Linked DNA regions of Homo sapiens: all the other regions are linked to region 1. The links come from fine-mapping of genetic effects on gene expression. Tissue or cell type: whole blood. Region 1 holds a variant in brackets; each other region holds the start of a gene. Each region is shown on its reference strand, or each on the opposite one.

Region 1 (7,608 bases):
TGATTATGGTGGCATTGTAGAACCTACTTGCATTAATGATAAATGTAGGTACAGTAGACCCCCTGCCCCACCCCAGTCCAAGTTTTTGCTTTCCAAGGTTTCAGTTTCAGTGGTTTCAGTTACCTGCGGTCAACTTTGGTATAGAAATATTAAATGGAGGCCGGGCGTGGTGGCTCACGCCTGTAATCCCAGTACTTTGGGAGGCCGAGGCGGGTGGATCACGAGGTCAGGAGATCAAGACCATCCTGGCTAACATGGTGAAACCCTGTCTCTACTAAAAATACAAAAAATTAGCCGGTCATAGTGGCGGGCGCCTGTAATCCCAGCTACTTGGGAGGCTGAGGCAGGAGAATGGCGTGAACCCGGGAGGTGGAGCTTTCAGTTAGCTGAGATCGCGCCACTGCACTCCAGCCTGGGCGACAGAGCGAGACTCTGTCTCAAAAAAAAAAAAGGAAATATTAAATGGAAAATTCCAGAAATAACTCCTAAGTTTTTAATTGTGTACCCTTCTGAGTAGCATGATGAAGTATTGCATTGACCTGCACTGTCCCATCCAGGACATAAATTATTCCTCTGTCCAGCATACCCACACTGTAGATGCTACCTGCCCATTCAGTCACTTTGTAGCCATCTTGTGGTTATCAGGTCAACTGTGGCAGTGTCAACGTGCTTGTGTTCCAGTCACCCTTATTTTACTTCAGAATGGCCCCAGAGTGCAAGAGTAGTGATGCTGGTGATTTGGATATGCCAAAGATAAGCAGGAAAATGCTTCCTTTAAATGAAAAGGTAAAAGCTCATAAAGAAAAAAGTTTGTGTATTGAGATATACATCTTATAAATAAATCATAAGTATTATTTATGGTAAGAATGAATCTTCTATCAGTTAAATTGTGGGGAAGGAAAAACAAATTTGTGCTAATTTTGCTGTTGTATCTCAAACTGCAAAAGTTACAGTCACAGTGCCTGATAAATGCTTAGTTAAGATGGAAAATACATTAAATTTGTGGGTGGAAGACATGGATAGAAATGTGTTCCAACTGACGGCAATGGGGTTTGGTACTGTGCATGGTTTTGAGTGTCCACTAGAGGTCTTGGTACGTATCCCCAGGATGAAGGGGGACTACTGCATAGAAAAAATGTTTCCCAAATTTGTTATAAGTTGAAATGACTGTGAAATATTGGATATGCAACTGTTAACTCTGTATTTCAGCCTTAATTCCATCTCCTTTGTCAAATATAACTTGATTTGAAACCAAAATTTAGTGTCATAGTCACTGAATAAGTTACATTTGTTTTCTTCATTTTTTTTCTTCCTGTAGGTTTACCTTTTTGAGATTGGGTGCAGTTTTCCAAAATACTTTTTCTAATACTCTTCCAAAGATCTCAACCTTCCTTTACAGTTTGAACTCCTGTTTGTATTGCTTGCTTCCCTAATGGAAATCTGAATTTTTATAATTCCTGTGTATTTCTTTTTTGCATTGCCTTAACAGGCATGGGTCTTCGAAAGCCCTGGAGCTCCCTGTGTGGCCCCTGCCATTGGTATGCTGTGATGCTTTGCCTGTCCTGTGCTCAGGTTTATTCATGATGGATAAGACTCCCTTCCTATCACATGTGCACTGTTCTAGCAAAGAGAATAGACAAATTCTTTTCAGTTGTGATGTTGCCCAGGGTTTTGTTTTGTTTTTTTCCCTTTAAGGAAAAGAATGTCAGTGGTGTATATCAGAAAAGACTGTTTACACCCTTTCTATCCCTTGCCTTTCAAACCAGGCAGGATTCAGTACACTTTTAAACTCCCCCAGAATATGAAAAAAGATCCCTTTTCAGCTTTCCAGAAATTTTTTAAAATGTAGAAGAATGTAGGAAATTGCCAAATCAGTTAGTTAATCAGTGACAACTGCAGTCAGTACACGAAGAGCACGCTTCTTACAAGAGCAGCTAGCTGTTTGCTGCTTTCTCAGCCCCTCTGCATGCTTGCCCTTGCCTCACCTCTGCATCCTCCTCCAGAGGTTCAGTGTCAGCCTTATAGGAGCTGGTGATTGCCACGGGGTCCCCAGACAGAGCATGGCCACAGGGCAGCTCCTTCCTTCCCTTCCTTCTGTTCCACCCTCACTTTTTGTAGGCTTGACATCACCTGGAGCTTCTGTGTGTCAAGTCAGTAGCTTGAAATAAGTCTAGAATAAGTGGGAAAATCTTTCCTAATGGTGATTTTTTTAAAATCAGGCTAATAAACATGGTGTTACTAGCCTTTATACACCACCCTGGGCTTTACAAAACCCAGGATATTTTATAATATTAAGCAAGATACATACTAGCAATCAGCAAATTTTGTAAAATATACATTACTCTTCCATAAGTCTGCACTGTAAGCATTCTTGCCAGGTGGGTTGAAATACATTTCTGAAATTTAATTTTTTTCCTATCCAAAATAAATTACTTAAAAAGTTTTCATTTACTTATTTCTAGACCTGTCTCTTCATTTGATTTTCTTCTCTACCATATTACAATTAATTAGGATAACATTCAAAAGATATGAGACCTGGTGCAGTGGCTCATACCTGTAACCCCAGCACTTTAAGAGGCTGAGGCAGGAGGATTCCCTGAGCCTAGGAGTTCAAGACCAGTTTGGGCAACATAGTGAGACTTTGTTTCCCAGGAAAAAAAAAAAATTAGCTGGGTGTGGTGGTACACAACTATAGTCCCAACTACTTGGGAGCCCGCACTGGGAGGATTACTTGAGCCCAGGAGTTGGGAGACTGCAGTGAGCTATGATTGTGCCACTGCACTCCAGCTTGGGTGACAGAGCGAGACCCTGTCTCTTAAAAAAAAAAAAAAGATATGGGATAGATACACATATTTTATGTAGCTACATATGTGATCTACACCTAGGTATGGTATATATAGATACATGTTTGTCTTCATTTCTCTTTTGCCATACAATGTTGAGTACTTCAGGTGCTATTAGAATGTGTGCCCATCTGTTCCTAGGACATGTTGTGTACATGGAATGAAGACCCTGCTGGACATATTTTCTTAGTGTCTGCACTGCGGCAGCAGGTCAGCTGTCTCCACGTTAGGGTCAAGGTGCTGGCCACCTTCTCAGTGGGCTTAGCCTTTAGGAGTTAGCTTCAGAGAGGTATTTGAATTTTGAATTGCAGGGTGTAAAGGACACAAATTTTCATGATCCTTGTGCTTTTGTGGCATAATTTATGTATGGGGTAATATACTCCTTTTGACCACTTTGGAAAAAGCTAGTGCTGTGGGCATGCACTTAGTATAAGCTGTTAGCCAAGTGCTATTTCATTAGTTGCCTTGAAAGGAAACGTTAGCCTCAATACTGCATGAAGGAACAAAAGAACAGCTTTTTTTTTTTAT[C/CA]ATAAAGGCTACTCAGAATATCCAGAGTCTTCAAAGTTATGTAGAAATAACTGAAAGATTTCTGCAAGAAACCTGTGAAATAGTATGTTATGTAACATAGCATTAGATATTAATGTTAACTGCATTTTTTTGACTTGCACAAATGATTGGCAAACAGATGGGCATATCTTTAAAATTAAACCATCTTTAGATACCCACTCCTTGTAAACTGTTACAGATTAAATTTGTCACTAAGGGCTGTTCATAATTCTTTGAATGAAGTCAGTATTGTTTATTTGTCAGACACAAATGTCAAGACTACTTTCTTTAAGTGACATATCTTTGTATTGCTTTATAATATTCTTTGTAACATGTGCCATTTGTTGTTGATCCATTATATTAACTGAGTGGTCAGTGTGCTATCCTGTAGGAGGAGCTCAGAGTCTGAGGGCAGGACTTCCCAAACTTTCACATGCACAGGAATCACTTGGGGCCTTTGTTAATAAAGGCAGATTCTGGTGCAGGAGGTCTGAGGTGAGCCTGAGAGTCTGCGTCTCTTACCAGCTCCCGGGGGTGCCAGGGGTCCTGTCTCTCAGGATTCCACTTCACATGGCAAGGCTCCAGTCGCCAGAAAGAGAGGGAGGTGAACACATAAGAATAGTAGCGTGCTTGGCACTTTTGTAGCTTCTGCCCATGTTGATGTGGTGGTACTGCTAGCAAGGGCTTTGAAATCAGCCTGAAGAGGGAGGGTTGAGGGTCAGGAAGCTTCCGAAGATGGGTGATAACAAAGGAACTGAGATGAAAAAGAGGCCAGCCTCTACAGTGAGGGGATAAGGAGGCCAGGGAAGAGACCATGGGTGTGAAGGCGAGGAAGGTATGAGATAGCTGATGGATGGTTGGTAAACTTTGAGTAGTTTGATATACCTAATGGGGGTGTTTGTGAGTGCTTCAGGGGATAGAGGGAAGGGAGTTAAGGGAGTTGAGAATGGACAGGTCAATAAGGATTTGATTATTAGTGCCTTCAAGCATGCTGGAGCATTTGGACTGGAACCTGAAAGCTATGGGAGGTCCTTTAAGGATTTTAATCAGGGAGAGGTATGATGTAATCTGTGTTTTATAAGATCATTCAATCAGTAGTGTGAAAGCGTTGAGACCAGAATTAGGAGAACTGATTAGATTTCTAATTTTTTGTGGTTCACTAAACCATGAAGGTCTGATTACTTCAGAGCTAGTGTAAACAGGGAGGAGGAGTTAGACCCATAAATATCTGGGAGAGAGCATTAGCAGGTTGGGAAATGCACTGAATATGTGGGATGTACTGGGGCGTTTATTCAAACTGCAAGCTGCACGAGGACAGGGCCACATCTGCTTCGTTCAACACTGTATACACAGTGTCTGTTAACCTTGAATATTTTTTAAATGAATGATGACAGGAAGGATCTAGGCTTATTTCCCATTGTTTGGCTAGGTTGAAGAGGTGGATGGAGATGGTGTTACTGTCATAGCGAATGCTAACATAAGGCGTAGCGTTGCCCTATACGATGTCAGTGGTTTTCCTTATTAAAAATGTGTCTCTTCTGTTAATATCAGCAAAATGGGAGGTAACCTAGTAATATGAATGGAGGTTACCAGTACAATCCTTATTACTATTTATGGTTTTATTTTTAATATGATGCTTGGGGACAAACAGACCTTAGAAGGACTTCACATACTTCTTTTTTTTCTAAATCTTTTTCTGAATTGTGTATAGTTGAGAATTATTCCTAACATACTGAAAATTATTTATGAAGAAATAAGAATATATGTTGGGAGATAATACAGAAAGGAGACATAGGTTGTAAGTATAGTTAACATAAAATATGATATATGGAAAAAATAACATATATTTCATCCCAAAGGGTAGATATGGACCTTTAAAAGAATACTAATCTCTGAAAGAGGAGAAAATATTTTTTATGAAAGAGGATTGCTGCTATTTAATATGGTCTTTGTTTAAACATGTTACCTCTAAGAAGAAATACATAGGAGTGCTTTCCATGTAATTTTCTGCAGTGATGGAAATGTTCATTATAGGCACTGTCGAGTAGGTAGCCACCAACCACATGTGGCTTTTGAGCACTTGAATGTGGCTTGTGCGACTAAGGAACTGAATTTTAAGTTTTATTTAGTTTAAGTAGTTTAAATAACAACATGTGGCTGGTGGCTTCTGGATTACACAGCACCGTCATAGAGTATTGGCAATGCCCTAGCATACTAATGAGGAAGAAAATGTGGTCTTGGCCAGGAAGAAAATGTGGTCTTGGCCCCCTTGGCCAACCCAGGGGGTTCAGGAAGGGCATCATTTGACCCATGAAGCAAATACGGAAAATACTTTGTGGTGAACTGATAAGCTGGTGTTGGTGACTTGGGGGGCACTTCCTGATTCTTTATCCAGGTTCTTGTCAGTTGGATAGATGTCTCCTTCATCAGCAAGCATTGGTCCTGCTAGATGTTCCCAAGTGGCTGTTGGGGGCTGGGTTGTGGGTGGGGCAGTGGGAGGAGATTCCTGTTAACCGGATTCAGGATCTAGCTGAAAGGACTTTCACTTTGAGTGGAAGCTCAGCAGTGTGAGCCCTTTGTCTTCGGTCTGTCCACCTACCAGTGTGTGGATTCTTTGCCTCTCTTGATATGTTTTGCAGCCTTGATGATTGAGAGGTGTCTCCATGGGTTATGATGAGGGTGGTGATGTGCTGTTTTTTTAGCTGCAAAATGCTTCCTTGGAAATTCTGATTCATGCTCCACCCTCATCCCCAGAATCATTATCACAGTGATGTTCTATACCTCACGCTCTTTGGAGGTGGAAGAGAGAAATTTAAATAGAACAACTCAAAATCAAACCATAAGCAGCAAAATAGTCTTCAGTATCCAATAGGCAAATGTCCTATGATTTCACTCTTGCCCACGTGTTGGCTGTTTATCAAAAAAGTTTCCCTTGGATGACATTTTACTTACACAATAGGACAAATAGTGTTTGAGCTATAGGAGATACTTTGCATGTGAAAGGTGTTACGTATTCACCTATCTCCTTGCTAGGTTTCTAGTCCACACCTGTGACGCTAAAAGGTTCTGCGTCACTACAAAATTAAAACTCAGCTATACAAATGCCATTCTACTTTGAGAAGAGTGTAGTAAATAATTGTTTATATTGTTTTGGAAGGTCAGAAAATCACTATATATAAAATAAATTTAATAAGTAAAAATTTAACATGTGTTATAATTAAGAAATTTTATATATACATATATTTTTCAAAATATTAATATTTTCAGTGACATTTCTTTCATCTTGGTTTCTTGCGCACCCGTTGCTTTTATCATTGATTCTGTCTGTGCTTGGATCTGCCCGTTTTTCATTTGACTATTTCCCAATAAAATTTACCAATAGCTCCAATTTGGTGTTGATATATGCTTGTTTCCTAAAAGTTATATATAGTATGATTTAAAAACATTTTTGGAAAGGAAATTCACTTCTATTTGCTGATGGCAGCAGCAGTTTTAGTGATTCTCTGAATAAAACAGACTTGATGCAGGCCTTTAATATTTTGTCCTCACTAGTAAGCTGCTGTTTCATTCATTCATTCATTTCTTTCATCTTTGGGAACTGTCACTAAAATGTTTTGTAGAAGAAGTTTACTCCTCTCAGTCTATAAAAGGATTTTTTTCATCTGTTAAATGAGGAGGGGTTTGGATTAGAAGGTCTTCAGAGTGCTTCCTAACTCTGAAATGTTTGTAATTGGTTTCACAGTGTGCCTCTAATGTTGATGATTCTGTTAGTTGAGTGGTCTCGTTGTGACCCCTCCTCACCCCCAAACACATGCATCTTCTGAACTGTCCTTTAGTTCACATCTCAGAAAATGCTGGCCAATAGGGCACTGAGTAGAAACTTGAATTACTATGTCTCCATTATATGCATAGGTACCGTTTGCTACATATTCTCACATTTAGTTAGACTATTCCTCATCAGAAGTTACCGAGGAGTATTTTGTAAAATGGCAACCTATATTTTTAATAACATAAGCCCTGAATCTTAGTTCTTATTTAAGAGATGCATCATTTACAGATATATAAGCTCCATGAGGACAAGAGGGAATTTTGTTTTATTCACAGATCTCTCTCCAGCTCTTAGACTAGTGCCTGGATCATAGTAGGTGCTCAGTAAATACATTTTGAATAAATAATTGTGATTTGAGAGTTAATTTTTATGTAACACCAAATAAAACAT
Region 2 (7,608 bases), not on the chromosome of region 1:
ACAGAGCGAGACTCTGTCGCAAACAAAACAAAAACAAAACAAAACAAAACAAAAGGAGAAAGAAAGAAAGAGATAGAGAGAGAAAGAAAGAAGAAAGAAAGAAAAAGAGAGAAAGAAAGAAAGAAAGAAAGAAAAAGAAAGAGAGAGAGAGAGAGAGAGAGAGAGAAAGAAAGAAAGAAAGTTCCATATTGGAAGCATTTTATTCTGAAACAGCTGTGGCTACCCCAGCCCCCTTCCTGGCTGCCTGGGGCCAGCCCGGGTGACTGGCTGTCCCCATCCTCCCGGGAGACTCAGGTGGCCCCTGATGGGTGACTGGCCGTCCCCATCCTCCAGGGAGACTCAGGTGGCCCCTGATGGGTGACTGGCCGTCCCTGTCCTCCAGGGAGACTCAGGTGGCCCCCTGATCTGTGATGGCATCATCCAAGGAATAGACTCCTTCGTGATCTGGGGATGTGCCACCCGCCTTTTCCCTGACTTCTTCACGCGGGTAGCCCTCTACGTGGACTGGATCCGTTCCACGCTGCGCCGTGTGGAGGCCAAGGGCCGCCCCTGAACCGCCCCTCCCACAGCGCTGGCCGGGACCCCGAGCCTGGCTCCAAACCCTCGAGGCGGATCTTTGGACAGAAGCAGCTCTTCCCCGAACACTGTGGCGTCCGGGACGGCCCCACCCGTCCCCCCACACTCCCTCCCACGGGGCTCCGGGAGACAGGCCGGCCCTGCACCTCACCCCACCGTGACCTCAATAAACGTTGAAACTCCCCCTGGCTCCTGTCTGTCCTTCCCATATAGGGAGGGGAGGGGGAACTGCCCACCGTGACCTCAATAAACGTTGAAACTCCCCCTGGCTCCTGTCTGTCCTTCCCATATAGGGAGGGAACCAGGGAGAGGTCCCCTGGGTTCAAGTCCCCGAGCCCCAAACTCAGGATGGGGGGAGTCGGAGCGGGGGATGGGGGCCCAGGTTGCAGGGGGTCTCTCTCCTGGATGCTCGTGGCTGTGGGTTCTAACCCGGCCCCATCAGGGTGGCCCTGGGCAGGTTGTTATTCATCTCCGTGCCTCAGTTTCCTCATCTGGAAAATGGACTCGCCCCAGACGTTTCCTAGAACTGTCCCTGCTGGCTCAGGGACTCCTTGAGGAAGGGGATGGGGATGGGGAAGCAGCCTGGGGGGCTTCCTGGAGGAGGTGGCAGTGCCAGAGCTGCATATCAAGGTGTGAACAGAAACATCCGAAGGGCTGCCAGGCAGGGGGCACAGTCCAGGCAGAGACCTGAGGGCTAGAGGCCAGGGGACGGGGAGGAGGGCAGGCAGGGGAGGGATGTGGGTGCAGGGGAGGGGTAATGGGGTTGGAGCGCTATTTCTCGTAGGAGGGGTAGGCAGGGCAGGAGTTCCCTGGTAGAAGCATGAGCAATGAACTGGGTGGGGGGGTGGCCAGAGGGGAGGTCCGAGGCGGGGAAGAGGTGGGACTCACAGTCCAGCTCAAAGACGGGCAAGTGGCCACTAGAAGGAGGCATTAGCCACAGAGAGGGGACGACCTGCTCCAGGACACGTGTAGAGAAGAAATGAAGCTCATTGCTGGTGTTTTTTTTTTCTTTTTAATATTTTTTTGAGACAGAGTCTCGCTCTGTCACCCAGGCTGGAGTGCAGTGGTGTGATCTCGGCTCACTGCAAGCTCCGCCACCCGGGTTGAAGCGATTCTCCTGCCTCAGCCTCCGGAGTAGCTGGGACTACAGGCACAGACCACCACGCCCAGTTAATTTTTATATTTTTAGTACAGACAGGGTTTCACCACGTTGTCCAGGCTGGTCTCGAACTCCTGACCTCAGGTGGTCCACCCGCCTCAGCTTCCCAAAGTGCTGGGTTTACAGGCGTGAGCCTACTTACTTATTTACAGCTGGCCTACTTATTTATTTTTGAGACAGGGTCTCACTCTGTCGCCCAGTCTGTAGTGCAGTGGTGCAATCTTGGCTTACCGCAGCCTCAACCTCCTGGGCTCAAGTGATCCTCCCACCTCAGCCTCCCGAGTAGCTGGGACTACAGGTGCCACCACACCCAGCTATTTTCTTAGTTTTTGTAGAGACGGGGTCTGGCTGTGTTGCCCAGGTGGGTCCTCAGTGACTCTTTACATATGAACACCTCCAGGTCACTGTAATCTTAGCAATCTCCTGGCCTCCCAGAAGACCCCACGTCCCCCTCGGAGTCTACACCCGCTGTGACCATAACACCCCTACCTTCCCTGCCACAGTTAATGGTGAACCAGCTCTCAAAGCAACACTTTCTTTTTTTTTTTTTTTTTTTTTTTTTTTTTGAGACGGAGTCTCGCTCTGTCGCCCAGGCTGGAGTGCAGTGGCATGATCTCGGCTCACTGCAACCTCCGCCTCCTAGGTTCAAGCAATTCTCCTGCCTCAGTCTCCCGAGTAGCCGGGATTACAGGCAGGTACCACCACGCCAGGCTAATTTTGTATTTTTGGTAGAGACGGGGTTTGTCCATGTTGGTCAGGCTGGAATTCCCAACCTCAGGTGATACACCCGCCTCAGCCTCCCAAAGTGTTGGGATTACAGGCCTGAGCCACCGCGCCCGGCCAGACAACACTTTCTTAGCTAAGAACTTTATGAACGTGAATTTATTTCATCCTCTTGACAGGTTTATGTGATGGATCCTACGATTATAATTTTACAGAGGAGGAAACTGAGTCACGGAGAGTTTATTTCAGGGGCCTGAAGTTACACAGTGGCCAAATGGCCACACCAGAACCAGGATATGAACCCAGCGTCGGCACACTTAATAATGACTGCACGTGAGAATGTAGTATACAGCTGGTGCTCAATAAATGCAGCTGACGCCAAGTCTGATCTCCGTGCTGGAGGCCAAGCCCCTTCCAAAGATACGGCGTCCCCCACCCCTGAAATCCCCCCACCCCCGACTTGAAACAGGGCTGTGTAGACAGTAGGCGCTTACTAAGTGCACTGTGGTGATGTTAAGGCAGCAAGGTGGGAACCCTGCCAAAAGGGGAGGGGAGAAGGCAGGGTAGTGTGTGTCTGATTAAGCTGAGGACAGGGCAGACATGGACTGAGCGCCTGCTGTGTGCCAGGCTCTGGGAGGGCAGGGCCATTGTCTCCCTAACCCGAGAGCCATGGGGGTCCACTTGCCTGTGGTCACGTCAGGACTCCAGCCTGGCCCAGGCTCTGCGTGTCCCCGGGTGCCCTCGCCCCGCCTATTCCTGGAGACAGGCCCGTTGGTTCCCTTCCCCTCCCCTTGTCCTGGAGCCAGGAGGACGTTGGTTCTTGCGACAGCCTTGGCCCGGCCGTTGCAGCTGGAACATCGTGGGGGAGATGGGAAGAGGAACGGGGCCCGGAGCCCGGGGCTGGGTCCTGGGAATCCCTTTCCCGCAGCTGGGACTCCAGCTCCCCTGCCAGTTCCTCCAGGCGGAAGCCCTCAGGCTTGGTCCTCACTCCAGCCTCCCGGCCTGGACAGGAATTCTCTCTCCAGCAGCCCTGCCAGATGCCCGCCCAGCCCCTGCCTCAGGCGGGGAGGGCTTCAGGGAAGCTCACCAAGGCAGAAGGGCGGGAGAGATTGTCAGAGCCCCAGCTGGTGTCCAGGGACTGACCGTGAGCCTGGGTGAAAGTGAGTTCCCCGTTGGAGGCAACAGACGAGGAGAGGATGGAAGGCCTGGCCCCCAAGAATGAGCCCTGAGGTTCAGGGAGCGGCTGGAGTGAGCCGGCCCCAGATCTCCGTCCAGCTGCGGGTCCCAGAGGCCTGGGTTACACTCGCAGCTCCTGGGGGAGGCCCTTGACGTGCCTCAGTTCCCAAACAGGAACCCTGGGAAGGACCAGAGAAGTGCCTATTGCGCAGTGAGTGCCCGACACAGCTGCATGTGGCCGGTATCACAGGGCCCTGGGTAAACTGAGGCAGGCGACACAGCTGCATGTGGCCGGTATCACAGGGCCCTGGGTAAACTGAGGCAGGCGACACAGCTGCATGTGGCCGGTATCACAGGGCCCTGGGTAAACTGAGGCAGGCGACACAGCTGCATGTGGCCGTATCACAGGGCCCTGGGTAAACTGAGGCAGGTGACACAGCTGCATGTGGCCGGTATCACGGGGCCCTGGATAAACAGAGGCAGGCGACACAGCTGCATGTGGCCGGTATCACGGGGCCCTGGGTAAACTGAGGCAGGCGAGGCCACCCCCATCAAGTCCCTCAGGTCTAGGTTTGGCAGGTTTGGCAAAAACACAGCAACGCTCGGTTAAATCTGAATTTCGGGTAAGTATATCCTGGGCCTCATTTGGAAGAGACTTAGATTAAAAAAAAAACGTCGAGACCAGCCCGGCCAACACGGTGAAACCCCGTCTCTACTAAAAATACAAAAAATTAGCCAGGCGCAGTGGCTCACGCCTGTGATCCCAGCACTCTGGGAGGCTGAGGCAGGCGGATCACCCGAGGTCAGATGTTCAAGACCAGCCTGGCCGACAGGGCGAAACACTGTCTCTACTACAAATACAAAAATTAGCCGGGAGTGGTGGCAGGTGCCTGTAATCTCAGCTATTCAGGAGGCTGAGGCAGGAGAATCACTTGAACCTGGGAGGCGGAGGTTGCCGTGAGCCGGGATCACGCCACCGCACTCCAGCCTGGGCGATAGAGCAAGACTCTGTCTCCAAAAAAATAAATTAAAAAACCCACATTGATTATCTGACATTTGAATGCGATTGTGCATCCTGAATTTTGTCTGGAGGCCCCACCCGAGCCAATCCAGCGTCTTGTCCCCCTTCTCCCCCTTTTCATCAACGCCCTGTGCCAGGGGAGAGGAAGTGGAGGGCGCTGGCCGGCCGTGGGGCAATGCAACGGCCTCCCAGCACAGGGCTATAAGAGGAGCCGGGCGGGCACGGAGGGGCAGAGACCCCGGAGCCCCAGCCCCACCATGACCCTCGGCCGCCGACTCGCGTGTCTTTTCCTCGCCTGTGTCCTGCCGGCCTTGCTGCTGGGGGGTGAGTTTTTGAGTCCAACCTCCCGCTGCTCCCTCTGTCCCGGGTTCTGTTCCCACCTCTCCATAGAGGGCCCCACCAGTGTGGGTCCCTCATCCTCACAGGGGAGGTGCCAGCTGGGACAAGGAGACCAGAAGAGACTGAGGTTCTGAGCGGTGAAGCCACCACCAGGAGCCCAGAGTTGGGGTTTGAAAACCGGGGAGGGGGGGGGGGTCGCAGGTCGCCCTCTGGGTTCAAGTCCAGGTCTGTCTGTGCCTTGGAGGGGCACCGTGGGGAGGTCCCTTTGCCTCTCCGTGCCTCAGTTTCCTCATCTGAACAACAGGGGTGCGAACGGCCCCGATCCCGTGGGTTCCCGGTGGGGGATCCCGTGGGTTCCCGGTGGGGGATCCCGTGGGTTCCTGGTGGGGGATCCAGAGGCCCCGTGGCCGGGAGGGGACAGGCTCCTTGGCAGGCACTCAGCACCCGCACCCGGTGTGTCCCCAGGCACCGCGCTGGCCTCGGAGATTGTGGGGGGCCGGCGAGCGCGGCCCCACGCGTGGCCCTTCATGGTGTCCCTGCAGCTGCGCGGAGGCCACTTCTGCGGCGCCACCCTGATTGCGCCCAACTTCGTCATGTCGGCCGCGCACTGCGTGGCGAATGTGTGAGTAGCCGGGAGTGTGCGCGCCCGGCTCGGACCCCGCGTCCCGGTCTGTGAGGTGGGTGGGGGGAGGCCGGGGCCGGGGCTGCTGGCGGGGGGGGGTCCGTCCAGGGCCCGCGGGGCCCCTCGAGCACCTTCGCCCTCAGGCCCGTCGCCGGATGGGGACGACAAGGCGCGGCTGAGCCCCGACCCCCGGGGCCGCCCCTGAGCCCCGCCTCTCCCTCCCCGGCAGAAACGTCCGCGCGGTGCGGGTGGTCCTGGGAGCCCATAACCTCTCGCGGCGGGAGCCCACCCGGCAGGTGTTCGCCGTGCAGCGCATCTTCGAAAACGGCTACGACCCCGTAAACTTGCTCAACGACATCGTGATTCTCCAGGTGCCGCCGGGCGGGGCGGGGGGCGCAGGGGCGGAGGCCAGAGGCCTGGGGAGGGTGGAGGCTGCGACGGAGGGGCGCGTCGGGGCCGCTCGTGGGGACCTGGGGTGGCATCGTGGGCTGGGTGGTCCCCTCTCCGCGCCTCGGTCTGCACCTCTGTGAAACGGGAAAATACCCGCCATGGGCCGTTGAGGGGTTAAATGAGATCCTGCAGGGAGGCCCCGATCTGCTGTCAATCAACAAACTTACTGAGAAGGGAGGCCCCGATCTGTTGTCAATCAACAAACTTACTGAGAAGGGAGGCCCCGATCTGTTGTCAATCAACAAACTTACTGAGAAGGGAGGCCCCGATCTGCTGTCAATCAACAAACTTACTGAGAAGGGAGGCCCCGATCTGTTGTCAATCAACAAACTTACTGAGAAGGGAGGCCCCGATCTGCTGTCAATCAACAAACTTACTGAGAAGGGAGGCCCCGATCTGTTGTCAATCAACAAACTTACTGAGAAGGGAGGCCCCGATCTGCTGTCAATCAACAAACTTACTGAGAAGGGAGGCCCCGATCTGTTGTCAATCAACAAACTTACTGAGAAGGGAGGCCCCGATCTGCTGTCAATCAACAAACTTACTGAGATTCTTTGTGTCTCTCCATTCACCAGTCCTGTGGCCCAGGGCAGGGGCCGCCTCTGTCTTTGGGAAAAGGGGCAAAAGTCCCCACCTTTCCACCCCTGTCCGCGGCTTGCAGTTCTGGTTATTTCCTGGGCGCCGGGCCCCGTGGCTCAGGCCTGTCATCCCAGCACTTTGGGAGGCTGAGGCGGGTGGATCACGAGGTCAGGTGTTCGAGACCAGCCTGAGCAACATAGTGAAACCCCGTCTCTACTAAAATACAAAAAAAAAAAATTAGCCGAGTGTGGTTGTGGGTGCCTGTAATGCCAACTACTCAGGAGGCTGAGGAAGGAGAATCGCTTGAACCCCGGAGGCGGAGATTGCAGTGAGCTGAGATCACACCACTGCACTCCAGCCTGGGTCTCAAAAAAAAAAAAAAAGATTCCTCCCTGGGAAGGGTTAGAGGGAGAGTTTCCTTGTCACTAAGTTTTCTCATAGCTCTCACCCAGTGCAGTGGCGCGATCGCAGCTCACTACAGCCTCCATCTCCTGGGCTCAAGCCACCCTCTCAGCTTGGAATGGGGGGTAGCTGGAACCACAGGTGCCACCACGTGGGTCCACCACGTCTGGCTAATATATATATATACACACACACATACATATATTATAAATAATAAATATATATTTTATTTAAATAAAATATATAATATTTATAATTATTTTATAATTATAATAATATTTATATAATTATAAATATCATTTATAATTATAATATTTATTATTTTATAAAATAATAAATATAAAATATATAAAAATATTTTTATAAAATAATAAAAATATATATATACACACATATATATATATTTTTTGAGACAAGTCTCGCTCTGTCGCCCAGGCTGGAGCGCAGTGGCACAATCTCAGCTCACTGCAACCTCCGCCTCCCAGGTTCAAGCGATTCTCCTGCCTCAGCCTCCCAGGTAGCTGGGACTACAGGCGCCCGCCACCACGCCTGGCTAATTTT
Region 3 (7,054 bases), not on the chromosome of region 1:
GGCTGGGACCCTCCATGGGAAGGGGGGCTTCCTGGCTGGGACCCTCCATGGGAAGGGGGCTTCCTGACGGAGGCCGCCGAGGACAATGCCGGGAAGGGGATTGATGTTGGGGGCGGGGTCGAGTCTCCCAAGGACAAAAAGGAGGTCCCCGTTGCCGGCGGAAGATACGGTGTAGGCCTTCCTGTGGGACTAGGACTCAGACCCAGGGGTCTCAGGGTCCTCCCCGGCCCTCAGGCTGCTGGCCCACCTCGGTCTCTCCATCCCTCTGCCTCTGCCTCTCTGTGTCTCTGTCTCTGTCTCCCTGTGTCTCTCTGCCTTCTCTCTTCCTCGCTCTGTCTCTGTCTCTCTGTGTCTCTATCTCCCTGTGTCTCTCTGCCTTGTCTCTCTTCCTTGATCTGTCTCTCCCTCTCTGTGTCTCTGTCTCCCTATGTCTCTCTTCCTCACTCTGTCTCTGTCTCTCTGTGTCTCTGTCTCTCTCTCTCTGTCTCTGTGTCTCCCTCACCCCCGCCTTCCCCACCTCTGGCCGTTGAAACCTGCGGGTCCCTCTGCCTCTGGGAACCCTCCCTCCTCCTTCCTGTGTCCATCCCACCTGCCCTGTCCTCAGGGGGACCCCAGCTTTGTTGTCTCCCCGCCCCCACAAGCCTGTGGATGTGAGGGCTCGGCACACGGGGACTGTGAGCAGCGTGATCACCACGCGTGACCCAGCGGGCGGGCGGGGGACAGGGCCCTGGAGAGCTGGGACACACCCTGCAAGGGGCCTCAGCCCTCCTGGCGCCCAGTGGTCCCTCCCCACCTGCAGGAAGTAGGGTCGGGGGCTGGGAAACAGCCCATTCACCAGGCCTGCTGCCCCCCGCCCGGGTTAAGGGCCCAGCTTCCCGGGAAGGGCCTGCACCTCCGGCCTGGGGAGGGCCCCTCCTCGGAGTCTGCTTTCCGGTGAGGCCTTTCCCGGCACCAGCCTGGGCAGGAGGGGGATGGGACCCAGGGAGACAGGGCTGTGAGCTCACACACCTGGGCCCTCACCTCTGAGGGGACTGTTTCCCCACCCCGGGCCTCAGTTTCCCTCCTCTAGGCCTCAGTTTCTCTCCTTTGCACCCAGCCCCTCCTCTAGGCCTCAGTTTCCCTCCTCAGCACCCAGCCCCTCCCCCGAGCCTCATTTTGCCTCCTCTGCACCCAGCCCCTCCCCTAGGCCTCAGTTTCCCTCCTTTGCACCCAGGCCCTGCCCTGGATCTCAGTTTCCCTCCTCTGGTCCCAGCCCCACCCCTGGGCCTCAGTTTCCCTCCTCTGATCCCAGCCCCTCCTCTGGGCCTCAGTTTCCCTCCTCTGGTCCCAGCCCCGCCCCTGGGCCTCAGTTTCCCTCCTCTGATCCCAGCCCCTCCTCTGGGCCTCAGTTTTCCTCCTCTGGTCCCAGCCCCGCCCCTGGGCCTCAGTTTCCCTCCTCTGGTCCCAGCCCTGCCCCTGGGCCTCAGTTTCCCTCCTCTGACAGGTAAGCCGATTGGCAATGCTTGGAACCCCATGGACTGGCTGCTGCTTTTTATTCCATGGCCAGGGAAACTGAGGCACAGACAGACCCTGAGGTCAGCAGGAATGCTCCATCATTTTATTCCCGCGTGCCTGCGGTGCATGGGGTCCAGGGTCACAGGACCGGCCCCTGGGTGGAGGGGAGCCAGCCATCACGACTGCCACCACAGGCCCTCATTGAGCTAGGAGCAGAGCACCCTGGGAACCACAGCGGAGGAGGGTGGGGGGCGAGGGGGTGAGGGGGTGGGCAGAACCTGGGTAAGGTGAGGAGCAGCCCGGGCAGAGTCCCAGAGGCCCTGGGAGGGTCCCGGTGATGCAGGGGGGTAAACAAGCCACCAGCGGAGACAGAACCAGTGTGCGGGGCTTGGAGGAACAGGTGGGTGGATTCCAGTGCGTTTGGAAGATGAGGTTCCCAGGACTCGCTGATGGCAGCTGTGAGTGGGAGTCCAGCCAGCATCCCTTCCAGATCCCTCTTGTGGACCGAGATCCAGGTCTCAGTGTAGACCAAGGAACAGAGGCAGCCCCTACTCGGGCTCCCAGGCTCCAGCCAGGCCTGCTAGGTGGGCGGCCTCTGCCCGTGTGATGGAAGGAAGCCAGGCTCAGAGATGGGGTGACTTGTCCCACGTCCTGGAGGGTCTCACAGCTCCACCACGGCCAGGAGACTTCAGTCCAGGGGGCCTCCATCCCCAGCGACCTTCACCTGACCCCCAGGGGACCCCAGCCAACAAGACCCGGCCTGCAGCTCCGGAACGGGGGAGGGCTGCTCTCCACCGCCCCTGTGCGGCCGCCCGGGAAAGTGCAGGCGGGCCGGGCGCGGTGGCTCACGCCTGTGATCTCAGCACTTTGGGAGGCCGAGGTGGGCGGATCACCTGAGGTCGGGAGTTCGAGGCCAGCCTGCCCAACATGGAGAAACCCTGTCTCTACTAAAGATACAAAATTAGCCAGGCGTGGTGACGCATGCCTGTAATCCCAGCTACTGGAGTGGCTGAGGCAGGAGAATCGCTTGAGCCCGGGAGACAGAGGTTGCGGTGAGCTGAGATCGCACCATTGCACTCCAGCCTGGGCAACAAGAGCGAAACTCAGAAAAAAAAGAAAAGAAAGTGCAGGGGACCCGCCGTCGGGGTGGGGGCGGCGCTGCCCAGCCTCTGTCCCACTTCCATGCACTTGACCTCGACCCTCCGGCCTCCGTCTGCGATCTTCCCGTGCCTGAATATGAGGCTTGGAACAGACCCAGACCTTCCTGCCTGCCCGTCCTGAGTGGCCCCGGGACCCCGCCCCATCTTTGGCCCCCAGCCCCTGCCTCTCTGCCGCCTCCAGGGTCGGGGGTCAGGCCAGGAAAGCCCCTTGGGAAGCCCCCGGGGAGCAGCTGGAGCGGGGTCGCCGGGCGGCGGGAAGGAGTGGGCGCCTCTATTTAAGCGGCTTCCCCGCGGCCTCGGGACAGAGGGGACTGAGCATGGATTTCGGACTGGCCCTCCTGCTGGCGGGGCTTCTGGGGCTCCTCCTCGGTGAGAAGGGGAGGGGGCGCGGGAGAGAGGAGTGAGTTAGGAGGGGGCTCAGGAGAGAGGAGGGGGCTCAGGAGAGGGGAGGGGGCTCAGGAGAGAGGAGAGGGCCCGGGAGAGAGGAGGGGGCCCAGGAGAGGGGAGGGGGCTCAGTAGAGTGGGGGGGCTCAGGAGAGAGGAGGGACGCAGGAGAGAGGAGGGGCGCAGGAGAGAGGAGGGGGCTCAGGAGAGTGGAGGGGGCTCAGGAGAGAGGAGGGGCGCAGGAGAGAGGAGGGGGCGCGGGAGAGAGGAGGGGGCGCGGAGGGGAGGGGGCGCAGGAGAGAGGAGGGGGCGCAGGAGAGTGGAGGGGGCGCGGGAGAGAGGAGGGGGCGCGGGAGAGGGGAGGGGGCTCGGGGGAGAGGAAGGGGCGCGGTGAGCGGGGAGGGGACGCGGGAGAGAGGAGGGAGTTAGGAGGGGGCTCAGGAGAGGGGAGGGGGCTCAGTAGAGTGGGGGGGCTCAGGAGAGAGGAGGGACGCAGGAGAGAGGAGGGGCGCAGGGGAGAGGAGGGGGCGCAGGAGAGTGGAGGGGGCTCAGGAGAGAGAAGGGGCTCAGGAGAGAGAAGGGGCGCAGGAGAGAGGAGGGGCGCGGAGGGGAGGGGGCGCAGGAGAGAGCAGGGGGCGCAGTAAAGTGAAGAGGACTCAGGAGAGAGGAGGGGGCGCGGGAGAGGGGAGGGGGTTTGGAAGAGAAGGGGGGCTCGGGAGAGGGGAGGGGGCTCGGGAGAGGGGAGGGGGTTCGGAAGAGAAGGGGGGCCCGGGAGAGGGGAGGGGGCCCGGGGGAGAGGAAGGGGCGCGGTGAGCGGGGAGGGGACGCGGGAGAGAGGAGGGAGTTAAGAGGGGGCGCAGGAGAGAGGAGGGGCTCGGAGGGGGCGCGGGAGAGACGAGGGGTGCTCAGAGTTAAGGGGCTCCGAGATAGGGGGTGATTGGTGATCCTGCCAGAGGAGGGGGCTCGGAGGAGGCAGGGGCTGAGAGGGGAAGTTGCGGGGCTCCGCGCGGCCCCCTGACCCGCAGCGAAACTGGCTCCAGGCAGCTGGGGTTCGGGGGACTGGGGCAGAGGCGGCGGTCGGGGCGGGGTTCAGGGACCGAGCCTGGGAGTCCGGGTAGCGGCGGGGCAGGGGTCCGGGGGTGCAGCGGAGGGTCCGGGAACCGGGCAGAGGCGGGGCGGGGTCCGGGGGTGGAGCGGGACGCAGGGCCGGTGGCGGGGCGGGGTCCGGGACTCCGCGGGGCTGAGCGAGAGCCGCGGTCGCCGCAGGCCAGTCCCTCCAGGTGAAGCCCCTGCAGGTGGAGCCCCCGGAGCCGGTGGTGGCCGTGGCCTTGGGCGCCTCGCGCCAGCTCACCTGCCGCCTGGCCTGCGCGGACCGCGGGGCCTCGGTGCAGTGGCGGGGCCTGGACACCAGCCTGGGCGCGGTGCAGTCGGACACGGGCCGCAGCGTCCTCACCGTGCGCAACGCCTCGCTGTCGGCGGCCGGGACCCGCGTGTGCGTGGGCTCCTGCGGGGGCCGCACCTTCCAGCACACCGTGCAGCTCCTTGTGTACGGTGAGGCGTCCCCCCGCGCCCTGCCTCTCTGACCCTTGGACTCCCGGCTCCTTCCCTATGCCACCTCTTCCTGGAAGCCTCCCAGATTGCAGGCAGGGTCCCAGCTCCATGCACAGCTCCCCGAAGCCAGGTCCCCGGCCTTCGCTTCCCTCCAACTCACCCCAACTCTCCCAGGGCCGGCCCTGGCCCATCCTCCTGTCTATTCCAGCCTCCCAGGGTGGGGCCACGGGGCCTGCGCACAGGCCGTCCCTACTGCCTGTTCATCAGCAGCCCCCACGCATCCTTGGCCCCAGCTCCAAGCCCCTCCGGGCTCCGGCCCCTCCATCACGTCCAGCCCTGACTCTGGGCTCAGCCCTCACCCCCGACCCTCCATCACAGCCTTCCCGGACCAGCTGACCGTCTCCCCAGCAGCCCTGGTGCCTGGTGACCCGGAGGTGGCCTGTACGGCCCACAAAGTCACGCCCGTGGACCCCAACGCGCTCTCCTTCTCCCTGCTCGTCGGGGGCCAGGAACTGGAGGGGGCGCAAGCCCTGGGCCCGGAGGTGCAGGAGGAGGAGGAGGAGCCCCAGGGGGACGAGGACGTGCTGTTCAGGGTGACAGAGCGCTGGCGGCTGCCGCCCCTGGGGACCCCTGTCCCGCCCGCCCTCTACTGCCAGGCCACGATGAGGCTGCCTGGCTTGGAGCTCAGCCACCGCCAGGCCATCCCCGGTGAGTCCGCTGGGTGCCCTGGAGACCCACCCGCTCGCCAGCCTTGACAAGCACTTCGGGACGGGGTGGGGGGGTGGGGGGGCAGCACCTGTGCTGTGGGGCGCTGGGAGGACTGGATTCCCCCACGCAGCGACAGCGACATTCATCGACGCAACATGTATTTGCCGAGCACCTGCCCCCCAGCACAGGTCCCACCCCTCCCCTGCCCACAGCGCTCCATGGCTCTTGCCTTGGGGTCAAAGCCCAAGTCCTCCCGGGGGCCCACAGGAACCTGCACGACCTACCCTGTCCCCTTCCTGTCCTCCCTCCACCCTTTCTCCCCCTCCTCATTCTGCTGCAGCCACACGGGCCTCCTCGCCTCCTCGCTGTTCCTCCAACACACCAGGCGTGATCCTGCCCCGGGGCCTTTGCACGGCTGTGCCCTCTGCCGGGAATACCCTTCTTCCGGATCTTTCCACGGCTCTCTCCTCCTCCCCCTCAGGTCTCTGTAGAATGTTGCCTCCTCCGTGAGGCTTCCCTGGATTCCCGTTTAAAGGGTCAACCCCTGATCCCCAACGTGTACAAACATAGGCACACAAGCACACACATGTACAAACACAGACACACACACGCGTGCACACAGGCACACACGCACACGCGTGTACAAACAGGCACACAAGCACACACGGGAACAAACGCACACACCCACACGCGTGTACAAACACAGGCACACAGGCACACGCGTGTACAAACACGCACACGCGTGTGAGCCCCCTTTCCCTTCTGTTTCGTTTCTTGACACCTTGGATAACATCTGACATCCCCCAGTCCCGTACATTCTCTTTTCCATGACCTTCTCCCACTGTGGCTCCCCAGGTGGGAATCTTGTGTCGCGCACGGCTGTGTCCACAGAAGCTAGAACAGGGCCTGGGGCATAGCAGGTGCTCAATAAACCCTTGCTGAATGCTCGGATGAAGACATTTAATGTGGGCCGGTGCCCTGGCGGTGCTCCCTTCACGCTCTGTCCAATCCCGAAGCCCCTGCCGGCTTCTCCCACTAAAGAAAAAGGGATTTGTCCTCCCATGGGGCACCCTGATACCCATGTTAATGGACGTGAGGTCGTGAGTTTCAAGCAAAGGGCTCCCGGGGATAAAGCAGAAGCTGGGAGACCCGGGAGGTCTTTGTGGTGGGGGTGGGGCTGGGGTGGGCAGAGAGGAGGCTGGATTTGAGGGATATTTTACAGAACACGGGCCCTCACGGGCCTCAGTCTCCCCATCAGTCCCACAGGGGATGGAGCAGAAGGCCAGGGCAGAAAGCCCCCAAGCACCTTCTCTCTCCACGCCAGCCTCCTCCCAACTCTCCTCGTCCACAGCCCATCATAATAAACGCGGGACCCACTCGCTCTCAGGGCAGCCCAAAGAGGTGACTCTCACCCCTTTGACAGTTGAGGAAACTGAGGCACGTGGAGATTAAGGAGGCTGCTGGGGTGATGTTGCCAGTGAGTGGGGGACCTGGAATGCCCGGACTCCCATCCTGCCCACTGTGGTGCCTCAGCTTCCTCATCTGTCCAGTGGACTTCCCTGACTGTGGGTCCTTTGTAAATTTCAGGGACCATGTGGATTTCAAAGCACTTTATAAATTATAGGCTTTAGGCCGGGCTCACGCCTGTAATCCCAGCACTTTGGGAGGCTGAGGTGGGTGGATTACCTGAGGTCAGGAGTTCAAGACCAGCCTGGCCAACATAGTGAAACCCCATCTCTATTAAAAATACAAAAATT
Region 4 (7,608 bases), not on the chromosome of region 1:
TATTTGAAAAGTACAGGGGTCAAGCAGACAGGCAATGCAGGACCTCAGTTGGAAGCCCTGTCAGCATGATGTACTCCCTGACACCCTTGAGAGCACATCAGATGATCCTAACTATGATCTATAAAGACTGAGACTCCTCCAGAACATGGAGTATTCTTAAAGCCTGTTCAAACCTCTAGAAGGCAAGTGCAAGGCCATCTGGAATAAAACATTAAACTTGGGCTGAGCCTGGGGCTCAATGAGCTAGGTACCCAGACTTTGTGATACTTCACCTGGAAAATGATCCTGGGTGTTTTGCACTGAAAAAAGCACATTCCCCATCCCAGGCAAAGTGCCTGGCAATTAATCCATCCAGACCTAGGCTGAATACAAGTCACTATATTGACTATCCCCCTTAAAAAATGACCAAAATTATCTGAGTGTAGCTCAGAGAAGACAAGGCTAATGTATGCATCTGGAGAGGCCAGGGTGATGGTAAAGATTACGCCTGTTTCTATACTGGCCGTCTAAAGGTATTTACTTGGGTCTGTCTGTGTTGTGACAGTGTCCTAGACTCAAATGAATGCCTCTAACACTCCACATTTTTGAGCCATTCAGTCATGCATTTTTGTTATTGTTGAAAGTGGTGCGAAATTGCACTGCATGAGCTAAAGTCCTTGGTGGTCTTCCAAGGATTCCAGCTAAAAAGGCACTTCCTTTGTTCCTCAGGAGAATGCAGTCCAGTAGGTCATTCAAAAGGGGAAATAAAAGCAGCAGCCCAGGGAGGGAGATGAAGGACAAGACAAAAAGAATAAAATGTTTTGGGTGTGAGCACATTAGCTTCCATTTCCTGCTGCTGGTCACTAATAACTCCCCTATCTTTGGCATGGGGGAATGTCCAGATAGACATATACGCAAAATATCCCTCAGGTGATTTCTGGGGATGATGACAATCAAAGGGAACACCTAGCACAGAGTCTCTGAGCACCCTTCAAGCTTCCTTTTTCCTGAGATGCTGGCTGGGGAAGATGCCCTGCCACAGCGAAAGACTGCACAGAGCAAAGTTGGGGAAACTGGGGAGGGCAGTTTCACAACCCCACTCGCTGAATGCCTGCAGTCAATATCAAAGGCACATATTGTTTGCATGAGCAGAAGATGAAACCTTGTCACATTCCCATTAAGTGCAGAGCTGCATCTACCCCTTCAAAATGTGGGAATGACAACTGTAACCTTCACGCCAATCATCTCCGCTGTGCCCAGGCCTAAACTGTGCAGGGCACAAAGACCCCAGGTTTGACCTGCAGAGTCCCCAAGCTTCAGCGGCTGGTGGTTCACTTCATTTTTTTTCTGGCGGGGCAGGAGGAAGGGAAAGAAAGAGGGCTTTTCAGGGCTCTACAACCAATAAAATCGTGCCGCTTTGAGGACATACTTGAGCTCCCCAAAAGACAGGCAGCTGAAGGGCAAACAGTGTCTAATCAGTAGTGAGCATGTTATTTGGTAACTGCCAAGGTGCAGTGGGCGCCTGGGCTGCTCCAACAATTTCTTCGCTTCTATTTCTAGACAGACGCCAGTTACACTCCAAAAGTGCCCAGCAACTTCCCTCAATTACCTTTGTAATTAATATGTAATTGATGACTGCACTTAATCTCCAAGGTTATTAATAGCCCTTCCAAAAAATGACCCCCAAATCTTCCTAAGCCTTTGGAAGCGCCTGGTTGAAATTACAGTATTTCCTTTGCTGGCTGCCGGCCCCCTGCCCGCCCCACCCGGAGACCAGCACGGCAAGGCAAAGGCGCGCTCCACTCACTTCCATGAAAGGTTCGGAGTGGAGGCTCAGCCCCCCCCCCGGGCTCGAATCTCTCACTCCTCCGTTAGATTACGCTGGCCACCAGCCAGCTAGATTCGTGGTGCTTTCTGAGCCCCCAGGGCGAACGGGCTACCTGCGCGGCCGGCGGGGCTGCGCGCAACAGTTGGCCGCTGCTAAGAAGACAGTGCGACCCGGAGGGGACCCGGCCGGACACCGCCGCCAGCTTCGCTGGGAGGGACGCAGGGCACCCGCCGAACGCTGCCTCCCCAGCGCTCCGAGAGGGGCTTTCACAAATACCCCCATACACCCCCCATCCCACCCCACCGGCGCCAAAATCCGGTGAACTTTCTCACAGGCTAAGCCGTCTCTATTTGCATAACCATCTCCAAACTGAGATTCAGGTTTCCTGTAATCAGTCCTTTCAAAGGTCTGTAATTGAAAGTGCAATTAACCCTTAAAATGAGGTAAGAAAAAAGAAAGAGGGGAAAAATACTCCTCTGGTCTGATACCTTCCGGAAAGTAGGAGAGTTCCCAAAAGTCAGGGTTTGGAGGGGTGGAGAGTGGGGGTAGTCGTTTGCTTTTTAAAGGCGACTTCTGAAGCGGTTGCGGCTACTAAAACTCCTAATCCTTGTCAGCGGTGCAAGAGAGGCGGGGAGAGAGTTTTAAAAGAACATCAATGAAACATCAATTCAAGTTCCACGTTTTGCGACCCCCAGAATCTAGCAAGCTCCGGGACGTTTCCCTCCACCACACCCCACTGGCGACCCCCACCCCCACCCGGCCTCTCCTCACCCATACAACAAAGCGGGGCGTCCTATAAGGAGTTCAACCCGGAAAAGGAGAAGTAGCCGGTGACACGCACTTTGAGGGCCACAGTCCTCAGGGGCTTCCCGGGACGGCGAATAATGCAGGGGGGAGAGGAGGAGCGGAGGCGGGGAGCGGAGCGCGACAGTCGCACTGGGCAACCCGGCGGCGCCCCTCCGCTCGCAGTGCTGGGAAGGGGGGAGCGCTGCGCCCGCGGGGAACGTCCTGCGCCCGGGCTGCCTGGCTCTCTCGCTCGCTCGCTCCTGCCCTCTCGACTGCCCATTTCTCCCTCTAGTGTACCTGCGTCCGGCGCAGGGGGCGGCGGGGCGGGGGAAGGGAGTTGCAGCCTCCCTTCCCGAAGTGTCGGTCTCTGCGCCCACCTCCCGGGTGTGCCCACCTACCGTTGATCTCGTGGAGGGGGGCATCGTTCTTGTTGAAGCCTTTGGACACGTAAAGACGTCGCACTTCCGAGCAACTTTTCGACTTGAGCTCGGCAGCCAGCAGCGCGGCGCTGAGCACTGCCAGGGTGCAGAGAAGCGCGGGCAAGCCGAACCGTGCCATGGTGCGGGCCGGGGCGGACGCGTTCCCACCTTTGGGACCGGACGGGAAGCGGCGCTACGGCAGCGGGCCGAGGGCTGGCGGAGTCGGGGACTAGCGAGTGGAGCTGGAGGGAGAAGGAGTTGGAGTTGGTGGAAGAGGCGAGCAGGCGGAGGAGACGCGGGGCGAAAAGTAGAGCTGGGCCTCGCGTCAGGCAACGGTCCCCGGTGCCAGGCGCCGGGCCAGGGGAGAAGGAGGGCGTGGAGGCGGCGCGCGGCCCAGGGAAGCAGAGGCGCGGGCTGGTGACCTCGGGGTTTCGCGGGGCAGCGAACCCGGCAAGCTGACTGGCCGGCGAGGCGGGGACGCGGGGAAGGAGGGAAGGGTGGCAGGCGCCGCGGGGACCGCAGAGGGTGTGGGCGGCGGCGGGCGTTCGCTGCGCGCTGCTTGGGCTGCCCTGCGCTGGTCCGCTCGTCCGGCTGGACTCGGCTCGGCTGACTCTGCCCTCCGCCGCGCGGCTGTGCCCTTCTCAGCTCTGCCGCTGATTGACTGGCCGGCGTGCGCGGCGACGCTCCGCAAACTTGGCCAAGCGGGCGGCACTCGGGGGGAGGGGGCGGGCGTCGTGGGGGGGCCGGAGACAGGCGGGAGCACGCTGGGCCGGGCCGGGAGAAAACCTGGAAGCCGGGTTGGATCCGGAGCGGCCAAATCCACTTCCTAGGGGGCCGCACCGGGCGCCCGGCGCTCCTTCGCGTGACACGCCCCACCCGGCTCCTCCTTCCTCCCCTCCTCCTCGGAGGCGGGGAGCCAGCCCACCGCCCCCCAACCACAAAGGGAAGGCCAACTACTCCGGGCTGAAGGGCCCAGGTTCTGGGGAACGGGACGGCCTGGGACTTGTCCCGAAGCCCATGTCTGAGCCCCAGGCCTTCTTGCGCGCGGCCACCTGACCCGCCGCCTATGGGCAAAAGCCGCGCGGAGCCCTCCCGCCGCGATATCCGCCTCCCCGCTGCCATCCCGCACCCGCGGACGCTCCTATCCGCGCAGCTCCCGGGCTGGGCGGGGAAGGCACATTACTCGCATTGTTTCGCTGCAGGCAGCAGGGGGATTTGGGGCTCCGAGCTCGTCCTAGAGCCTCACCTGGTCTCCCCAGACCTGCTTCCCATAGGACGGTACTCGTGAAACACCAGTTTGTCCAGGACCCCATCAGGCATCCTCCTTCCCGCATCCGCAACACTCCAACCCCTCGACGCCACTCCCACCCCCGACCCGGTTCTACTACAAGTCTAACCGAACTCTGAAGCGGGAGAAACCCCCAACCGCGAGGTGAGGGGGCAAAGACAGGGTTGACCGCAGAGATCTTGGAGACCATTTGGCCCAACCCTTCCTTCTATTAAGGGAACTGGGGCCCAGAAATGGGAAGCGACTTGGTAAATAGCACGCCGGGGAAGGGGGCGTCCAGAACCCGGGACTCTTGACTCTCGAATTTCATGGAATAATGGTAGCCCAGGACTCCCAAACCCCCTACCCCCTCAAGCCCCTTGAGAGAGACTGACACCCCTCTGGGACTCAGTCCCCACTTTTCCACCAGAAAACTGGAAATGGGAGAGACTTCCCATCTTGCAAGCTTTGTCAGATTCCATTAATGAGTGTTTTTTTGAAGCTCCCAGCGCTCCTTAAATGAAGGGAACTGTGCAGCTCGGGAACTTGTCATTACCGTTGTTATTGTTACAATCTGCTTTAAGAGGTTGGGTTGAGAAGTGCCTCAGACACCTCGGGAGTGTGCTGGGAACTGGGCAGATAAAAAGGGCTGGAACTTATTATTTGGCTAGACTCTCAATTCCCATAAAATTACATAGGGCAAAGATACGAACCATCATTACAGTTATCACCCTCAGAGGGTTTGTTGAGACTTTCTCCACTGTTGTTTGTAAACCACGTTGACATGGCTGGCTATGAGGAGCTGTTATTTTGAATACCTGCTTGCAGACTCTTCTACATTTTGTTAACAGACTATCAACATGAACAGACTGTGACCCGTCTATAACTGTGACTTCCAATTTCTGTGGGCTGGCTGAATATTTAACTCTGAAACTAGGAGAGCAATTTTTTTAATGTGCAAACTCAACTACAATTGAATTTCCTGCCATTTTCAAGACTTTCCTTAAACTGGTAACCATCAAGTCCTGAAGGCATTGCTAGGGCTTAGCTGAGCACTTTTAATTTTCATTGATTGATACATTTACTTAAAGATGTTCTTCACCAAGGAGAATATGCTCTGAGATGCAACGAGCATTATTATAAAATGGAAGCCAGTGACCGTAAGAGAGAAAATGATACTCCTGAACCATGAAGGCCAAATCAGAAAGCTACTTCTCACACCAAGGCTGGGAGGAACTCATTCGTTGCCGCCGCTCCCCCCCGCCGCCCCCGCCCTCCCCAGGTTTACTCCTGCTCTTCCTCATAATGTATTATTAACCCAAACTTGAGCCTTTTCCACCAGAAACAGTAACCTCTGGCTACAAACAGATCTGGACAAGTCTGAACTTTACCAAGGGAGGCAGGAACCCCAAGCCGTGCTCAGAGGCGGCTCCCACTTCAAAGCCTCCTTTCATTTAAATACAAACAGGGTGAACAACTGGCAATCTACGAAACAAATACCATCCAGAAGGGAAGCTTTCTTTTCAGATGGGCCAGAACTCCTTCTTCCCTCTCCCACTCCCATCCCTGCTGTCTTCAGAAGAGGCTTCTTAGTGGAGATGCACCTACTCCTTGTAAGTTCTCTCAACGCCAAAAAATAGAGACTGCATGTTGACTGCAAAAATCGATGACTTCTCAGGCTGATTAACCGTCATATAACTTTTTTTTTTTTTTGCTTTTTAGAATTGTGGTAAAAAGCACACACATACGCAATTTGGTATCATTTTAACCATTTTGAAATGCACACTTCAGTGGCATTTAGTACAATCATAATGTACAATCATCACCACTAGTTACAGAACATTTTCATCACTCCAAAAGGAGACCACATACCCATTAAGCACTCAAAGTTCATTCTCTTCTCCTTCCAGTCCCTACAAACCACTAATTTGCTTTGTCTCTATGGATTTGCCTGTTCCAGACATTTTGTAGAAATGGAATCATACAATACAGGGCTTTTGTGTCTGACTTCTTCCACTTAGCATCATGTTTTCAAGGTCCATCCATATGGTAACATGTATCAGTACTTCATTCCTTTTTATGACTGAATAATGTTCCATTTACGGATATACCACATTTTGTTCATATAGCACTTTACAAGTTTGCACAGTGCTTCCAGGTGCACCCTCATATCTTAGAATATTTTGTTTTTTGTTTGTTTGTTTTTAATTGATAAGCAAACCAAGTCTCAGCAAGGTTCTGTGGCTTCTCCACAGCCACAGAGCTCTTGGGTGGCTAAACCAAGACTGAAATCTAAGGCCTCTGACCAAATCCCATGCTATTTTTGTTGTGGTTGTTGTTGTTGGTCAGAGAACACAGTGCTCTGGGTCTCTTTTACTGTCAGCAGTGAATGTACAACTGCCAAGGTCCTGTGGAAGTATCTTTGTTTTAGATTGATAAATGTTCATTGAACACCTCCTATGTGCCTGACAATGTTCAGTCCTAGAGGAAGGGAAGATGTATAAGCCAAAAGGAGTTTACAGTTTTATAAACGGTGTGCAAAGGCTTGCTTAGATAGAATGCACTAATGGTATACTTGTTTTTCCCAGGTCAGGAGTTTCCCCTGATATGACACTGGGAGGGGGAGGGTACATTTGCTGGTGGGCAGAGAGAACAAAGAATGCATTCCCATGCTTCTGTCCTCCAATCCAAGAGAACTGGTTGAGCCAGGTCTACTCTCTCAGCTTTGAGGACACTTCTCATGGCCTGCTGGGGAGCTACCCTGATTTCCAAATATGGGGCTGGGAAGAACCAAGCCTGGACACAGTGGCTCATATCTGTTAGGAGGCCGAGGCAAGGGGATTGCTTGAGCCTAGGAGTTCAAGACCAGCCTAGGCAACATAGTGAGACTGTCTCTACAACAAAATAAAAAGTATCCAGGCATGGTGGTGCACACCTGTGGTCCCAGCTACTTGGGAGGCTGAGGCAGGAGGATTGCTTGAGCCTGGGAGGTAGAGGCTGAAGTAAACTGTGATCACGCCACTGCACCACAGCCTGGGTGACAGCATGAGACCGTGTTTCAGGAAAGAGAGAAGGGAAGAGAGGAGAGGAGAGGGGAGGGGAGGGGAGGGAAGGGGAGGGGAAGGGAAGGGAGGGAAGAAAAGAAGGAAGGAAGGGAGCTCCCTCCCTTAGTTAGGGTAAGATGTTGGCCTGCAGCCCTCTAGTCTTTCCCTGTATCCAGCCCATTCCCCACACAGCCATCAGAGTGAGGCTTTGACAACATCTTCTGGACAATGTCCTTCTGGCTGATTTTTGTAGAGACGTTTTGTCATGTTGCCCAGGCTGGTCTT

Evidence for each region.
Region 2: it holds the start of ELANE, and the variant in region 1 is fine-mapped to the expression of ELANE in whole blood (TOPMed, PIP above 0.99).
Region 3: it holds the start of MADCAM1, and the variant in region 1 is fine-mapped to the expression of MADCAM1 in whole blood (TOPMed, PIP above 0.99).
Region 4: it holds the start of GPC4, and the variant in region 1 is fine-mapped to the expression of GPC4 in whole blood (TOPMed, PIP 0.92).

What each region holds. Positions count from the first base shown.
Region 1 is chr8:60,730,421-60,738,028 of GRCh38, forward strand. All of the region lies in intron 1 of CHD7 (chromodomain helicase DNA binding protein 7), which reads left to right. Among named protein-coding and RNA genes, the nearest start is that of CHD7, 55 kb to the left of the region's middle. The variant C/CA (reference allele first, on the strand shown) is at 3,372.
Region 2 is chr19:847,417-855,024 of GRCh38, forward strand. ELANE (elastase, neutrophil expressed) reads left to right here and starts at 4,887. Exons shown (of 5, transcript NM_001972.4): 1 at 4,887-4,979; 2 at 5,460-5,616; 3 at 5,846-5,987. The coding sequence starts at 4,913. PRTN3 (proteinase 3) reads left to right here. Exons shown (of 5, transcript NM_002777.4): 5 at 383-759. The coding sequence ends at 553. RefSeq lists an enhancer at 3,409-4,121.
Region 3 is chr19:493,529-500,582 of GRCh38, forward strand. MADCAM1 (mucosal vascular addressin cell adhesion molecule 1) reads left to right here and starts at 2,958. Exons shown (of 5, transcript NM_130760.3): 1 at 2,958-3,023; 2 at 4,305-4,589; 3 at 4,968-5,297. The coding sequence starts at 2,972. It overlaps MADCAM1-AS1 (MADCAM1 antisense RNA 1), which reads right to left. Exons shown (of 3, transcript XR_936221.4): 3 at 6,241-6,332. RefSeq lists a silencer at 2,276-2,325.
Region 4 is chrX:133,411,815-133,419,422 of GRCh38, forward strand. GPC4 (glypican 4) reads right to left here and starts at 3,675. Exons shown (of 9, transcript NM_001448.3): 1 at 2,992-3,675. The coding sequence starts at 3,151. RefSeq lists enhancers at 3,914-4,414, 5,537-6,076.